Regions from separate parts of the Homo sapiens genome. Here region 1 is linked to region 2. A link means that fine-mapping ties the variant in region 2 to the expression of a gene that starts in the linked region. Tissue or cell type: whole blood. Region 2 holds a variant in brackets; the other region holds the start of a gene. All regions are shown on one strand. Distances are from middle to middle.

Region 1 (8,106 bases), 49 kb after region 2:
TGCTTTTCTTAGAGGGGTTATGGATGCATGTTCATAACAGAAAGGGTACTCCTTGAGAAAGGGAATAATAATAATCATTTCAGAAACTACTATCTCTGAATGCTTGCTTTGTGCCAGGCACAGGTAAGACATTTTCTGCTTGTTTAATTTTCAGAACATCATTATAGGGCTATTATATTATCCCCACTGGATAAAAGAGGAAGCAGAGAGGTTCCAGTAATTCTCTCAAAGTCATAAGCTGTGGAGCCAGGTTTGAACTGAAAGCAGTCTCTGACTCCAGAACCCTGTTTAGCACCCCTGTTCTCAGCCCCATGGCTCGCTTGGCTCTCCCCAGCATCTCAATGGGTCTGAAGGTAACTAAGCCATGGCATGTGGACTGTGGGGTGATGGGCCTCACCCATCACCTTGTTCAGCCTCTCACTTCTCAGATGCGGACTTTTTTTTTTGGAGACAGAGTTTCGCTCTTGTTGCCCTGGCTAGAGTGCAATGGCACGATCTCGGCTCACTGCAGCCTCTGGCTCCAGGGTTCAAGTGATTCTCCTGCTCAGCCTCCGGAGTAGCTGGGATTACAGGCATCCACCACCACACCTGGCTAATTTTTTGTATTTTTAGTAGAGACAAGGTTTTACCATGTTGGCCAGGCTGGTCTCGAACTCCTGACTTCAGGTGATCCACCCGTCTTGGCATCCCAAAGTGCTGGGATTACAGGCGTGAGCCACCGTGCCTGGCCCAGATGGGGGTATTTTGATGATGAAGAGGAAGAGAAAGAAAATGTATCTTTCCTCCTTGGGGTTTCTTATTTGGCCTGTGACATTCCATTCCCACCCCTCCTCCAATTTGCCATTTTATTGACTTTTTCTAACTGGATGTACCTGGGTAGAAACTCCTCATACTATTGGCCCTGGTCATTGCTTTGTCTTTAGTTTTCCTTTTAGAAAAACAAAAACAAAAACAAGAAAAACAAGAGGAGCCTCTATTTCTTTGAGGTGGAGGTAACTGGTGAACTTGTGCTGGTCCTGCATTGAGCTCACCTGCCTCCCCAGTGGCCAGTCCTTGGCCCTGAAAGTCAGGGATGATCTAGCTCTAGGCATGGCTATTCCATCCAGGGGTGAGGCAGAAGTATCTCTCCTAAAGTCCTGCTCACCAGGAGCTCCCGTCCCCATACTACAGGTTCACATCCAGCTTTCAGGACTAGTCAGTCTATGTGGCCCTCCCTCAATTAATAAATCAGCAACTAATTTGCCAGGTGCGGTGGTTTGTGCCTGTAATCCCAGCACTTTAGGAAGCTGAGGCAGGCAGATCACTTGAGGTCAGGAGTTCGAGACCAGCCTGGCCAACATGGTGAAATCCCGTATCTACTGAAAATACAAAAATTAGCCGGGCATGGTGGTATGCACCCGTAATCCCAGCTACTCAGGAAGCTGAGGCAGGAGAATCACTTGAAACCAGGAGGCAGAGGTTGCAGTAAGCTGCACTCCAGCCTGGTGACAAGAGCAAAACTTTGTGTCAAAAAAACAAAGAAAACCAAAAAACAAAGAAAAACACAAAAAACCCTTCTATTTGTTAAAAAAAAAAAAATCCACCGTGAACCAAAAATTAGTAAAAACAATGAACTAAAATTTTGTTTTTGCAAAATGTATGATAACAAAATGTTAAGGAAGGTCATGTGCCGTTATGGTTCACTGCAGCCTTGAACTCCTGGGCTCAAGCGATCCTCCTGCTTCGGTCTCCCTAGTAGCTGGGACTACAGGCTTGTGCCACCGCACCCAGCTTATTTTTTTTTTTTATTTTTTGTAGAGATAGGAGTCTTGCTTTGTTGTCCAGGCTGGTCTTCAACTCCTAGCTTCCAGTGATCCTCCTGCCTCAGCCTCCCAAAGTGCTGGGCTGATGGGACATTTTTATACATAGTGCCATGTTACTATAAATGAGAAGTTTTAAAAATACTGATTTTAAAAATTAATTTATGTCAAGAATTTTTATAACCAAAGTTAAAAAACCAAACAAAAAATATGAAAAGGGTTAATATCTTTGAGAGGTGATGAGAACTTATAAGTCAATAAGAGAAAACAAACATCCCTATAAATGAATAAGCTAAGGACATGAATGGGTAATGTACATAAGAAATGTAAATGTCTAGTAATATGCCAAAATAGATTTATTATTACTAATAAGCCACTTTCACTCTCTAGTTGGCAGAGTTGTTTTGAAAAATAGATATGTAATGATGGTGGAAAAGATTGGTTTAACTATTCAGCAGGAAAATTTGGCAATTAGAAGTGTATCAAAAGCCTTAGAATGTTTCATAACCTTAGATTGGGAAATTCCACTTCTAGAAATTAATTCACTTCTAGAAATAATCATGAGTGTGCACAAAGATATTACCACAAAAATATTTTACAGTATTATGTCTAATAGAGAAGAACTAGAAATAATTTAAATTTCCACCAATACAGGTTTGCCAAAATACATTTTGTACATTCACCTAATGGTATATTATGTCCCTATTACAAATTATGTCCTAGAATATTTAATAGCATGGAAAAGTGTTAACAGTATTTTTTTAATGAAAAAAGCTTACAAAACAGTTTGTGATGATTCCATTTAAAATGTGTGTTTATTCATAGAACAAAGATTAGAAAAATAAACATTGATATATTAAAGGGTTATTTCATGGCAAATTGCAAATGATTATTTCCTTTTTTTGTGGCTTATTTGTATTTTTGAAGTTTTCTACAATGTAAAAGAATATTTTATGATATGAAAACTACAATACAATTTATAATATAAGAAAGAATAATTCGGCCGGGAACGGTGGCTCACGCCTGTAATCCCAGCACTTTTGGAGGCCGAGACCGGCGGATCACGAGGTCAGGGGTTCAAGACTAGCCTGGCCAACATAGTGAAACCCCATCTCTACGAAAAATACAAAAATTAGTCAGGCATGGTGGTGCGTGCCTGTAGTCCCAGCTACTCGGGAATTGCTTGAACCCGGGAGGTGGAGGTTGCAGTGAGCCCAGATCGCACCACTGCACTCCAGCTTGAGCAACAGAGTGAGACTTCGTCTCAAAAAAAAAAAAAAAAAAAAAAAAGAATAATTAACAGAAAATGGTTAGACACTTCCTTAGTGTCTCCTAAGTCAGGAGGACCCCAGTAGGGCAGGGATCCTCATGGCCTCCTCCCATTTGGAGCATTATTGGAGGTCTTTTTCGGCCTCTTCGTCAAGTGGAATCTAGCTTCCGGTAAAACTACAAAGTAACCAAAAGTTTGGGAGGTGGAAGAAATGCAACCGGTAGATCTCACAGAGTCTGTGCAAGAAACTGATTCAATGAGAATCTAGTTTCTCCGTCCACAGTTTCTCCAAACAGAAACTAAGGCCGACTTTAGGGGCTTGTCCAAACCTAGGCAAGCAACTTAACAAGGTGAGGCCATGACTCCATGGCCTTTCCGTTCTGTTATATGCTGACTTAGACTAAAGCTCTCATACTTTAAAGTGCACAGAAATCTAGTTAAAATGCAGATTCTGATTCAGGTTAGGGGTGGGCCTGAGAGTCTGCATTTCTAACCAGCTCCCAGGCGATGACCACGCACGGGACAGGTCTGGGATCACAGTTTAACTAGCAATGGTGTAGAACACAGAATCTGCAGCAAGAAGGCCAGCTTCCCAATCCTAGCTCTGCCACGGACCAACTGAATGACAGTTGCCTCGGTTTCCGAGTTTTCGTGAAGATGTAGTGAGTCATTACATCGTGAGGCTTTCGAGCAGCGTTCACTAAGAACTAGCTCTGACATTATTTATCGCATTCCTTAGAGCAAGCAGCCGGTGAAGTAGGGTTTGACGAATGAATAAGTGAATGAATGACCTTTGGAGAAAAATTGTTTCCTGGGTGACTAGAGTCCGAGAAGCAAAATGGGAGGGCCCGTGGGTGGGTAGGAGGCCCACCTCCTAGAAAGTTCTCTGCACCCGGTGGTCCAGAGGGCCTGGAGTGCCCGGAAGCCGGCCGGCTTGCGCTCAGCGGCCCAATGGGGCCGCGGGAGGGAGGGGAGAGCGCTCAGCCAACCCTTTCCGTCCGGGGCGCCGCAGCCCCGCCCCTCGGAGCGTTGCGACGTCCGAGCATTCCACGGTTGCTACATCGTCGCGAGGGGCGGGGCGCCTGTCAGGGAAGCGGCGCGCGCGCGCGGGCGGCGGGCGGGCTGGGGATCCGCCGCGCAGTGCCAGCGCCAGCGCCAGACCCGCGCCCCGCGCTCTCCGGCCCGTCGCCTGCCTTGGGACTCGCGAGCCCGCACTCCCGCCCTGCCTGTTCGCTGCCCGAGTATGGAGCTGCTGTGTTGCGAAGGCACCCGGCACGCGCCCCGGGCCGGGCCGGACCCGCGGCTGCTGGGGGACCAGCGTGTCCTGCAGAGCCTGCTCCGCCTGGAGGAGCGCTACGTACCCCGCGCCTCCTACTTCCAGTGCGTGCAGCGGGAGATCAAGCCGCACATGCGGAAGATGCTGGCTTACTGGATGCTGGAGGTACCGCCCGGACGCGTCCCCCTCCCCCACCGCTCCCGGGTCTGGACACACCGGGGCCGCCCTGTCGGGACATCCCGGTCCCCACAGCAATCTGCAGGATGCTCCGAGGCTAAGACTCCCGGGGCCTGGCCTTTCACTAGGGCACCCACGCCAGCTGCCTCCCTTGCTTTCCCGAGCCCTAATCGGCTCCTCCCGACAGTGACTGCCAGTCACTTGGCACCCTAACTGTGCCTCTCTTCGGGCCGAGCAAACGGGACCAAGGACACTCTCTCCCCTTCGGCTTCTCACAGCGTCTCCCGCTTCCCTCCGCCTCCCGGCCTTCTCCGGAGAGCGCGCCTGGAAAACCCTGGGCTCGGCCGCCCCCGCCCGGGAGCCGGTTCCTGTGTCTTTCGCGGGGTTCTGGCGGGGAAGGCGATGGGGGTGGCGCGCGCCCTGTTCCGGCCGACAGGGAAATGAAAAGTGCAGGAGGCAGCGGCAGGAGCCTCCTCCCTTCCCCTCGGGTGTGTGCAGTGGTGGCGGTGATGGGGGTGAGGTCCCAGCTCTCTGGCTACCATGGGTGACCCTTGCGTCCCACTTCCCCTCGCTGTGGGGGAGGGGAGTCTCCGTTTGGAATCCTCCGTGAGCAAGGGCTCCTTGGCTTTACCACTCCCCCGTCAAGGGGAGAGGGGAGGAGGCCGCGCAGAGGAAGTGGGGGGCGTCACCTTGGGGAGGGCGCATCCTCCTCCTTTATTGGTCCTTGTCTCTCTAAGTAGCTTACCCTCTCTGCCGTTTTTGCTCCCTATCCCACCTCACTTCAGCGCTCCCACCCCCCCGCTGCTGTGTTCCCCACGCTCCAGACCCAGCAGTGACTGTGCGCCCTCCCCCAGGTATGTGAGGAGCAGCGCTGTGAGGAGGAAGTCTTCCCCCTGGCCATGAACTACCTGGATCGCTACCTGTCTTGCGTCCCCACCCGAAAGGCGCAGTTGCAGCTCCTGGGTGCGGTCTGCATGCTGCTGGCCTCCAAGCTGCGCGAGACCACGCCCCTGACCATCGAAAAACTGTGCATCTACACCGACCACGCTGTCTCTCCCCGCCAGTTGCGGGTGCGTGTGTAACTCCCCCCACCCCCGACACGTATTGTCTCCCCACTTTCCAGGAAAAGGAAAGCTTGAGATATCAGAGGCTTTCTGCCCCCTGGAGAGGAAGCAAGGGGATCAGGACCTTTGGGAAAGGAATTGGGGTGGAACAAACGATGGGGCATTGTGGTGTGATGGTTAGTATCACTCCCGCCCAGGCTTGAGCTGCAGGCAGGCATTAAACCCCCTCCTCCTGACCTCCAGGGGATGCCACTCCTTCCTGGTCTTTCCCCCAGATAGCAACAAGTCAAATTGCATGTCTACACTCACTAGTACTTTGCCTCTGGGTTTACGCAGCCACCATGAGTTATTTATTGGCAGCAGAAGGGCATGCCTGCACACCCCCACTGGAGTAGGGGAGTGGAATGTGCTTCATGTGGGGGAGGGGGTTTTGCCTTGGTTGAGTCTTTATCCTCATGTGGACTTTGTGATAGAAAAGCCTCCCAGAGCCAATTAAAGCCAGGCCCTGATTGCTTTAAGGAAGGGCTGATGTATTTCATCCCACCTTCTTTGCTTCCTCTTATATCCCGGAAGAAACAGCTTCTTCCTAATCCTTCCTCGTCCTCATTCTGAGGAACTGGAGCAGCTGCTTTGGGCCTGGTGGAAACAGCTCCCTCTTCCCCCCTTAGCCCAAGGCCCAAGCTGAGGGACAGACAGGGAGGTGAGCTGCATCTGCTTCCGATGTGATAATGGTGCCCCCTCCCCTGGCCCGCCCTCTCTGACCAAGGTCTTTCATAACCCTGTGGGGAGCTGCTGTCACTCCTGTGGTTTGGGAAGTGGCTCCCTGGGCCTCTTGCTGGAAACTTGGGCTGGGCTCAGGCCGGGCAGGAAAGTCACCGGTTCTGTCCCGCCTCAGAAGGAGCCTGGGGAGGAGGCGGGGGAGCTGCTGGATCTGGAAGAGGTTATTTAGGACATGCAGATTGTCTCCTAGGGAGGCTGGGGGAGAGGGTGGGTGAGCTGGCACCTTCCTCCACCTTGCTCTGTGGCGGGCCAAGTCTTCTGCTGACCCTGAGAGGAGTCTCTGGGCCCCATCTCCCAGGGAGGAGGGCAGCAAGCAGGCTGCTGTGATTGGCTGGCAGGGAAGCCAGGGTACTGGGGCCCCCGACTGCTGTGAGTCGAGGAACAGGATTCCTCTTCCTGCCAAGTAGCTCAGAGATGGGAGTAGGAGGCCAGAGTTGGGAATCCAGGAGGCGCCACAGCTCTTTGTGATGAATCTGGTAGTTTTTGGCAAGTCTGAAGGTGGAGCTAGTTTCCAGGGCCAGAGAGCAAGATGTTTTTGGAGGGGTTGGGGCTGGAAGGTAGAAGGGGAACTTCCTTTTTGTGAAAAGATGGAGGTGGTTTGTGTGCCCACGTATGAGGGTTTTTCAGTACAGGCAAAAAGTACTCTTCCCTCTGCCTGAGCTGGGGGTGGAGTGCCCAAAAGACTTCCTAGAAGGTCAAGGTTGGAAGGGACCTCTGAGAACTCCAGTTGGTCCAAATCCGTGTGCAGCAGAGGAGGCTGAGGCCCAAGGAAGGAGGGCAAGGTCCTGCCTCAGCATCGCACTGAGCAGATGAGTGTAGAACCTGGGTCTTCTAGCTAGACCAGGTTGCCTTAAAAGTCAGGAATGTGATGGCCGCTGCCACCTACTGAAGCTAAGCACTCCCAGGGGTGTGTTCTCCACCAGTTAACACTGGGATTCTCTGGTTGCCTGGATATGGGGAAAGGTGGCCACTTTCCCTCAAACACAACCCCTTGCCTCCCCATAGGGAGAGTCCCACTCCCAGTTGCCTTCCAGATGCTTCCTTAGAAGCTGAGTCCCTTCTGTTTACTGCTGAGTTAGGAGTTGGCTCCTGGGACATGCACTAGGGGTAGCGTTGTAATTTATCTGTCTCACTTCTGGCTCCAGGCCAGGCTATTTTCTCTGGGGCTCTGTGAGGGTAGGGGTTGATTTGAGAGGCTGACACCTAAGCTGGGGCCAAGAGAGAGACAGCTGTGGCTGGGGCCTGGAAGAGGTTGGGTGGGGTTGCCATTTCTGCCTCAATAAGGAGTCAAACCCACAAGTTCCTTCCTGAGATAAAACAATGAAGAAATCCTCATGTGTGCAACTCAGAAATGGGGCCAGGTCTGGGAACCCATGACGAGTGGACTGGGGTGGAGCTCCCAGCCTTCTCCCGAGACCTAGTACTGGCAGGTAGGCTTGGGTAGGTGAGGATAGGGCTTGATCCCTCTGGAATCATTTGGAGCCATCCTGTCTGGCTTGGCCTCTACCTATCCTCCTGAAAGTCAAGTGGCATGGGGCACTACGGGTTCCAGCTAAAGGGGGTGGGGTGGGGTGCTATACCTCAGGACCCATCCCTGATATCCTACCAAGGGGATGTGGCTTGGGTTGGGCAATCTCCCCTTTGAGGAACCTGAGAAAAGGCTCTGTGGCTGTCATTGGAGGAGTCATACTCCCTTCTGTTGATTCAAGAAGTGTGGACTTGGCTGGGATGCAGAGTTGC
Region 2 (8,106 bases):
TTCTTATGCATAAATAAAAATTTTAACTAATATACTTTATTTATTTATTTATTTTTGTTTATCTATTTTTGAGACGGAGTCTCACTCTGTCGCCCAGGCTGGAATGCAATGGCACGATCTCGGCTGACTGCAACCTCCGCCTCCTGGGTTCAAGTGATTCTCCTGCCTCAGCCTCCCGAGTAGCTGGAATTACAGGCGGCTGCCACCACGCCTGGCTAATTTTTGTATTTGTAGTAGAGACGGGGTTTCACCATGTTGGCCAGCCTGGTCTGGAACTCCTGACCTCGTGATCTGCCCACCTCGGACTCCCAAAGTGCTGAGATTACAAGCATAAGCCACCGCGCCCGGCCTATATTTTATTTTTTTAGAGTAGATTTGGTTCACAGCAAAATTGAGCTGCAAAAGTACAGAGTTCCCATATAATTCCTACGCCATACATGCACAGCTTCCCTCACTATTGACACCCTGCACCCTAGTGATGTATTTGTTACAGGTGATGAACCTACGTTGATATATTATCACTGAAAGACCAGCATTTACCTTAGGGTTCACTTTTGGTGTCCATTCTTTGGTTTTTGACAAACATATGACATGTATCCACCATTGTAGTAATATACAGAATACTTTCACTACCCTAAAAATCCTCTGTGCTCTGTTTGTTTGTCTCATGCTTTCCCCTAATTCCTGGGAACCACTGGTCTTTTTGCTCCCTCCATAGTTTGGCCTTTTCCAGAATGTCATCTACAATCATGCATCACTTAATGAGGGGGGTATGTTCTGATAAACGAGTTGTCAGGTGATGTTGTCATTGTGTGAACATCATCGAGTGTACTTACACAAACCTAGATGGAATAGCCTCCTACACCCCTAGACTATATGGGATAGCCTATTGCTCCTAAGCTACAAACCTGTATAGCAGGTTACTGTACTGAATTCTGTAGGCAACTGTAACACAATGGCAAGTAGTTTGTCTATCTAGAGGTGGAAAAGGTAGAGTAACAATAAGATATTATAACCTCATGGGACCACCGTCATATATGCAGTCCATTGTTGACCGAAAACTGTGTGGCATATGACTGTATTTGGAGTCATCTAGTATGAAGCTTTTTCAGATTGGCATTCTTCACTAAGTAATATCCACTTAAGTTTTCTCTATGTCTTTTCATGGCTTGATAGCTCTTTTTTTTTTTTTTTTTTTTTTTTTTTTTTTTTTTTTAAGACAAGAGTCTGTCGCTCTGTCACCCAGGCTGGAGTGCAGTGGTGTGATCTTGGTTGACTACAACCTCCACCTCCCGGGTTCAAGCTATTCTCCTGCCTCAGCCTCCCAAGTAGCTGGGATTATGGGTACCCACCACCATGCCCAGCTAATTTTTTGTATTTTTAGTAGAGACAGGTTTCAGTATGTTGGCCAGGCTGGTCTCAAACTCCTGACCTCGTGATAGTGAACCACTGCACCCAGCCAGCTTTTTTTTTGGAGGCCGAGGTGGGCGGATCATCTGAGGTCAGAAGTTCAAGACCAGCCTGGCCAAATCGTGAAACCCCATCTGTATTGAAAATACAGAAATTAGCTGGGGATGGTGGCGCATGCCTGTAATCCAGTTACTCCAGAGGCTGAGGCAGGAGAACTGCTTGAACCCAGGAGGCAGAGGCTGCAGTGAGTTGAGATGGTACCACTGCACTCCAGCCTGGGCAACAGAGCAAGACTCCATCTCAAAAAAAAAAAAAAAAAAAGAAGACATGAGCTTAACAAATATATTGATATATGGGAAAATGTTCAACATCACTAATCATCAGGGAAATCCAAGTAAAACCACAATGAGGTATCATCTATGCTGTGAGGATGAGGAGAAAAGGGATCTCATAGACGGTTGGTGGGAATATAAACTATTGCAGCCACTATAGCAAACATTATGGAGTTTCCTCAAAAAACTGTAAATCAGACCAGGTATGGTGGTTTCCACCTGTAATCCCAGAGCTTTGGGAGGCCAAGGTGGGGAGATCACTTGGAGCCAGGAGTTCAAGACCATTTTAAGCAACACATCAAGACCCTGTCTCTACAAAACATTTTTAAGCCAGGCATGATATAGTGTGCCTATAGTCTTGTTACTTAGGGGCTTAGGTGTGAGGATTGCCTGAGCCCAGGAGTTCAAGGCTACAGAGAGCTATGATTGTACAACTGCACTCCAGCCTGGATGAAAGAGTGAGACTCCATCTTTAAAAACAAAAATAAAAACAAGGCCAGGCACAGAGGCTCATGCTTGTAACCTCAGCACTTTGGGAGGCTGAGACAGGAGGATTGCTTGAGGGAGGACGAGATTGCAGTGAGCCATGATAGTGGAACCATACTCTAGCCTAGGTGACAGAGCGAGACCCTGTCCCAAGATAGATAAAATATTGCTGGGTGTTGTGGCTCACACCTGTAATCCCAGCACTTTGGGAGGCCGAGACCAGTGTATCACAAGGTCAGGAGTTCGAGACCAGCCTGGCCAACATGGTGAAACCCCGTCTGTACTAAAAATACAAAAATTAGCTGGGCGTGGTGGCGCATGCCTGTTATCCCAGCTACTTAGGAGGCTGAGGCAGGAGAATTGTCTGAACCCGGGAGGTGGAGGTTGCAGTGAGCCACTGCACTCCAGCCTGGCACAGAGCAAGACTCCATCTAAAAAAAAAAAAAAAAACCGGCTGGGTGTGGTGGCTCATGCCTGTAATCCCAGCACTTTGGGGGCTGAGGCAGGAGGATTACTTGAGGTCAGGGGTTTGAGACCAGCCTGCCCAACATGGTAAAACCACGTCTTTACTAAAAATGCAAAAATTAGCCGGGCATGGTGGCAGGCACCTGTAATCCCAGCTACTTGGGAGGCTGAGGCATGAGAATCTCTTGAACCCAGGAGGTGGAGGTTGCAATGAGCTGAGATCATGCCACTGCACTCCAGCCTGGGCGACAGAGTGAGACTTCTTCTCAAAAATTAAAAAATAAATAAAACAAAAAAACTACAAATCAAACTACCATATGATCCAGCAATCCCACTACTGGGCATTTATCCAAAGGAAAGGAAATCAGTATATTGACGAGACATCCACACCTC[C/T]GTATTTATTGCAGCGCTATTGACAACAATCAAGATATCGAATCAACCTTGGTGTCCAACAGCTGATGAATGGATGAAGAAAATGTGGCACGTACACAATGGAATTCTTTTCAGCCATAAAAAAGAATGAAATCCTGTCATTTATGTCACCGTGGATGAAACTGAGGACATTATGTGAAGTCAGATAAACCAGGAATAGAAAGTTAAACACCGCATGTTCTCACTCACACGTGGAAGCTTTAAAAAGCTGATGTCATAGAAGGAAAAAGTAGAACAGAAAATACTAGAGGATGGAAAGGGGAGGGGAAAGGAAGCATAGGGAGAGATTTGTTAAAGGTTACAAAATTACAGCTACATAGGAGGAATAAGTTCCAGTGTTCTATGCCACTGTTGGAATGACTACAGTTAAGAATAATAATAATAGTTTCAAACAGCTAGGTGGAGGATACTGAATGCTCCCAAAACAAACAAAATGACAAATGTTTGAGATGATGGATATGCTAATTACTCTGATCACTGTACACTATATGTATTGAAACATCACTATGTACCCCATAAATATGTACAATTATTATGTATCAATTAAAAAATACAATTATACTAAATTAAAAAGAAACAAACTGGTGCATCCAGACAATGGAGTATTATTTTGTGGTAAAAAGAAATGAGCTATCAGCTGAGCTATGTACCTGAGCGGGGCTGGGCATGGTGGCTTACGCCTATAATCCCAGCACTTTGGGAGACCAAGGCGGGTGGATCACCTGAGGTCAGGAGTTTGAGACCAGCCTGGCCAACATGGTGAAACCTTGTCTCTACTAAAAATACAAAAATTAGCCGGGTGTGGTGCCACATGCCTGTAGCCCCAGCTACTTGGGAGGCTGAGGCAGAAGAATCGCTTGAACCCAGGAGGCAGAGGTTGCAGTGAGCTGAGATCACGCCATTGCACTCCAGTCTGGGCAACAAGAGGGAAATTCCGCCTTAAAAAAAAAAAAAAGTTTTCCCAGCACCATTTCTTGAAGAGACTATCCTTTCCCCAGTGAGTGTTCTTGGCACCTTTGTCAAAAATCAGTTGGCTAAGCCGGGGCAGTGGCGCACACCTGTAATCCCAGCACTTTGGGCGGCTGAGGTGGGCGGATCACCTTAGGTCAGGGGTTCAAAACCAGTCTGGCCAACATGGTGAAACTCCGACTCTACTAAAAATACAAAAATTAGCCGGACATGGTGTCAGGCGCCTGTAGTCCCAGCTACCCTGGAGGCTGAGGCAGGATAATCACTTGAACTCCGGAGGCAGAGGTGCAGGGAGCTGAGATTTTGCCACTTTGCCACTGCACTCCAGCCTGGGTGACAGAGCAAGACTCCATCACAAAAAAAAAAAAAAAAAAAAAAAAAAAAAAATCAGTTGGTTATAGATTCATGGACTAATTTCTGGGTTTTCTATTATTTCCTATTGGTTTATGTGTCTATTTTTATGTCACTACCATGCTATTTTAGTTACTACAGCTTTGTGGTATATTTTGAAGACTGGTAGTGTAATGCCTTCAGCTTTGTTCTTTTTGCTCAGGATTGCTTTGCCTATTTGGGGTCTTTTGTGGTTTCTTATGAATTTTAGGATTTTTTTTTCTATTTCTATGAAGAATATACTGACATGTTGATAGATAGTACAGTGAATCTGTAGATTGCTTTTGGTAATACGATCATTTTAACAATATTAATTCTTCCAATCCATGAACATGGGCCGTCTTTCCATTTGTATCATCTTCAACTTCAATTTCTTTCATCAGTGTTTTGTAGTTTTCCTTGTAGAAGTCTTTCACCTCCTTGGTAAAATTTATTTGTAGGTTTTTTTTTTAGAGCTATTATAATGGAATTGCATTCTTGATTTCTTTTTCAATTAGTTCATTGTTCATGTATAGAAACACTACTGATTTTTGTATGTTGATTTTGTATCCTGCAACTTTACTGAATTTGTTTATCAGTTTTTTGGTAGTCTTTAGCTTTTTCTATGTATAGGATTATGTCATCTGCAAACTGGAACAATTTGACTTCCTTCTTTTCCAATTTATAAGTCCTTTATTTTTTTTCTCTTGCCTAATTGCTCTGGCTTTGGTATCCATTCACCTACTGAAGGACAGCTTGGGCCTCAGAGTTTTGACAATTATGAATAAAGCCACTATCAACATCTGTGTGCAGGTTTTTGTGTGCACGTAAGTTTTCAGTTCATTTGGGCAGATACCAAGGAGTATAACTGCCGGGTTATAGAATAGTACTTTTAGTCATATAAGAAACTGTTAAATTGTCTTCCAAAGTGAATATACCATTTTGCATTCCCACCAGCAATGAATGAGAGTTTTTGTTGCTTCACATTCTCACCAGCACTTGATATGCCAATGTTTGGTATCTCAGTCATTCTAATAGGTGCATAGTGGTACATCATTATTGTTTTAATTTGCAATTTTCTAATGACATATGATTTAGAACACCTTTACATATGCTTATTTGCTATCTGTAGATGTTTGGTGAGATATCAGCTTGGTTCTTCTGCCCACTTTGTAATCAGATTGTTGTTTTCTTTTCTGTTTTTTTTTTTTGTTTTTTTTTTTTGAGACAGTGTTTCACTCTTGTCGCCCAGGCTAGAGTACAATGGCACAATCTTGCTCACTGCAACCTCCATCTCCCAGGTTCAAGCGATTCTCCTGCCTCAGTCTCCCGAGTAGCTTTTAATATACCAAAGACCACACCCAGCTAATTTTTGTATTTTTAGTAGAGATGGGGTTTCACCATGTTGGCCAGGCCGATCTCGAACTCCTTACCTCAGGTGATCCACCCGCCTTAGCCTCCCAAAGTCTTGGGATTACAGGCATGAGCCACAGTGCCCAGGTTGTTTGTTTTCTTATTGTTGAGATTTTAAGAGTTTTTTTTGCATATTGCGAATAACAATCCTTTATCAAATGTGTTCTTTGCAATTATTTCCCCCTAGTCTGTGGCTTGTCTTCTCATTCTTTTGACATTGCCTTTTGTGGAGCGGAGGTTTTAAATTTTAATGAAGTTCAGCTTATCGGCCGGGCGAGGTGGCTCACGCCTGTAATCCCAGCACTTTGGGAGGCCGAGGCGGGCGGATCATGAGGTCAGGAGATCGAGACCATCCTGGCTAACACAGTGAAACCCCGTCTCTGCTAAAAATACAAAAAAATTAGCTGGGCGCGGTGGCAGGCGCCTGTAGTCCCAGCTATTCGGGAGCCTCAGGCAGGAGAATGGCGTGAACCCGGGAGGCGGAGCTTGCAGTGAGCCGACATCGCGCCACTGCACTCCAGCCTGGGCGACAGAGCCAGACTCCGTCTCAAAAAAAAAAAAAAAAAGAAAAGAAGTTCAGCTTATCAATTATTTTTTCATAAATCATGCCTTTGGCATTATATCTAAAAAGCCATCCCCCATGAGGCCAAGAGGCCATGGCCATGTTAGCCCAGCTGCAAGGCTGGCCATCAGTTGTAGGAAATCCGTACTCCTTTAGGAACAGTATTGTGAATACATTTAGAAAAAAAGGAAAATGATCCAGCAGTTAAAATTCAGAGCTGGTTTACAGGATATTGACATGTTCAGGCATACATTAGGCACTTAAAAGAATTGTAATAACTATTCAAAAATGGGGTAGTTATTTAGGCAGCAGTGGCTATCAGGATTGAGAGAAGATGGTGAGCGGCTGTAAGAATGAGAAATACTGTTTTAATTTTTATTATTATTATGTTTTGAGACAGAGTTTCACTCTTGTTGCCCACCCAGGCTGGAGTGCAATGGCACGATCTCAGCTCATCACAACCTCTGCCTCCCGGGTTCAAGCAATTATCCTGCCTCAGCCTCCCGAGTAGCTGGGATTACAGGCATGCGCCACCATGCCTGGCTATTTTAGTAGAGACAGGGTTTCTCCATGTTGGTCAGGTTGGTCTCGAACTCCTGACCTCAGGTGATCCGCCTGCCTTGGCCTCTCAAAGTGCTGGGATTACAGGCATAAGCCACCGTGCCTGGTCTGTTTTAATTATTTTTATCTGAAGGAGTACCTGAGAATGGTTTGGGGAACCAGTGATGCAATTTAGGGAGGCACTAGAGGAGTTTGCAGAGATAAAAAAGAGAGAAGAGAACAAAGCTAAGCTCAAAAAGGAAGCAAAGAAAAGAGATCACTAAGTGTAAAAGATGCATTTTCTCCTCAGCACAAAGCAGATTCCAGGTGTATATAATTCACCATTCAGAAAAAAATTCCGTGGCCTGTCATGCTGGCTCACACCTGTAATCCCAGCACTTTGGGAGGCCAAGGCAGGAAGATCACTTGAGCCCAAGAGTTCGAGACCAGTCTGGGCAACATAGCAAGACCCCCTCTCTATTAAAAAAAAAAAATTAGCTGAGTATGGTGGTACACACCTGTAGTCCCAGCTACTTGGGAGACTGAGGCTGGAGGATCACTTGAGCCACTGGTAGCCTGAACGACAGAACAAGACTCTGTCTCTAAAACACACACACACACACACACACACACACACACACACACAGAGAGAGAGAGAGAGAGAGAGAGAGAGAGAGAGAGAGAGAAAAGCCTGGTCCATGGGAGTTGTGGTTACAGAAGGCAAAGCTTTTAATATACCAAAGATCTAAAGTTAAGCAGAAGTACTCCATAAGCCTTACCAATTGGCTAGCTTGTATAAGCACCCAGTCTTTTCTGAAGTGCTGCTACCTCTCAATAGGAAGCAATATCGGGGTCCTTCCAAGGTATCACTGAAGTATTAGGACAATGCCACAAGCCTTTGGAGCCAATGTTACAGGCACCAGAACCAATCAGTGAGTTAAAGTTAAAGTGAGGAGCTCAAAAGAGAGGAATGAGTGCGAAATGTAATTGACAATATGTTTTTGCCATTTTCTTCCTACTGTAAAAATAGAAAGTCCATCCCATTAATCCAGAGTTAATTAATATCCAGAGCTGGTTTACAGGATATTGACATGTTCTGGCATACATTAGGAATTTACACAGAATAGT

The links. PIP is the estimated chance that this variant, and not a neighbour inherited with it, causes the effect.
Region 1: CCND3 starts here. The variant in region 2 is fine-mapped to the expression of CCND3 in whole blood (INTERVAL, PIP above 0.99).

What each region holds. Positions count from the first base shown.
Region 1 is chr6:41,937,856-41,945,961 of GRCh38, reverse strand. It overlaps CCND3 (cyclin D3), which reads left to right and starts at 4,154. Exons shown (of 5, transcript NM_001760.5): 1 at 4,154-4,510; 2 at 5,377-5,592. The coding sequence starts at 4,313. RefSeq lists a silencer at 4,006-4,455 and enhancers at 3,972-4,923, 4,966-5,095, 6,177-6,471, 6,052-6,867, 6,868-7,683.
Region 2 is chr6:41,987,036-41,995,141 of GRCh38, reverse strand. It overlaps a transcript of CCND3 not described here. Among named protein-coding and RNA genes, the nearest start is that of CCND3, 49 kb to the right of the region's middle. The variant C/T (reference allele first, on the strand shown) is at 3,087.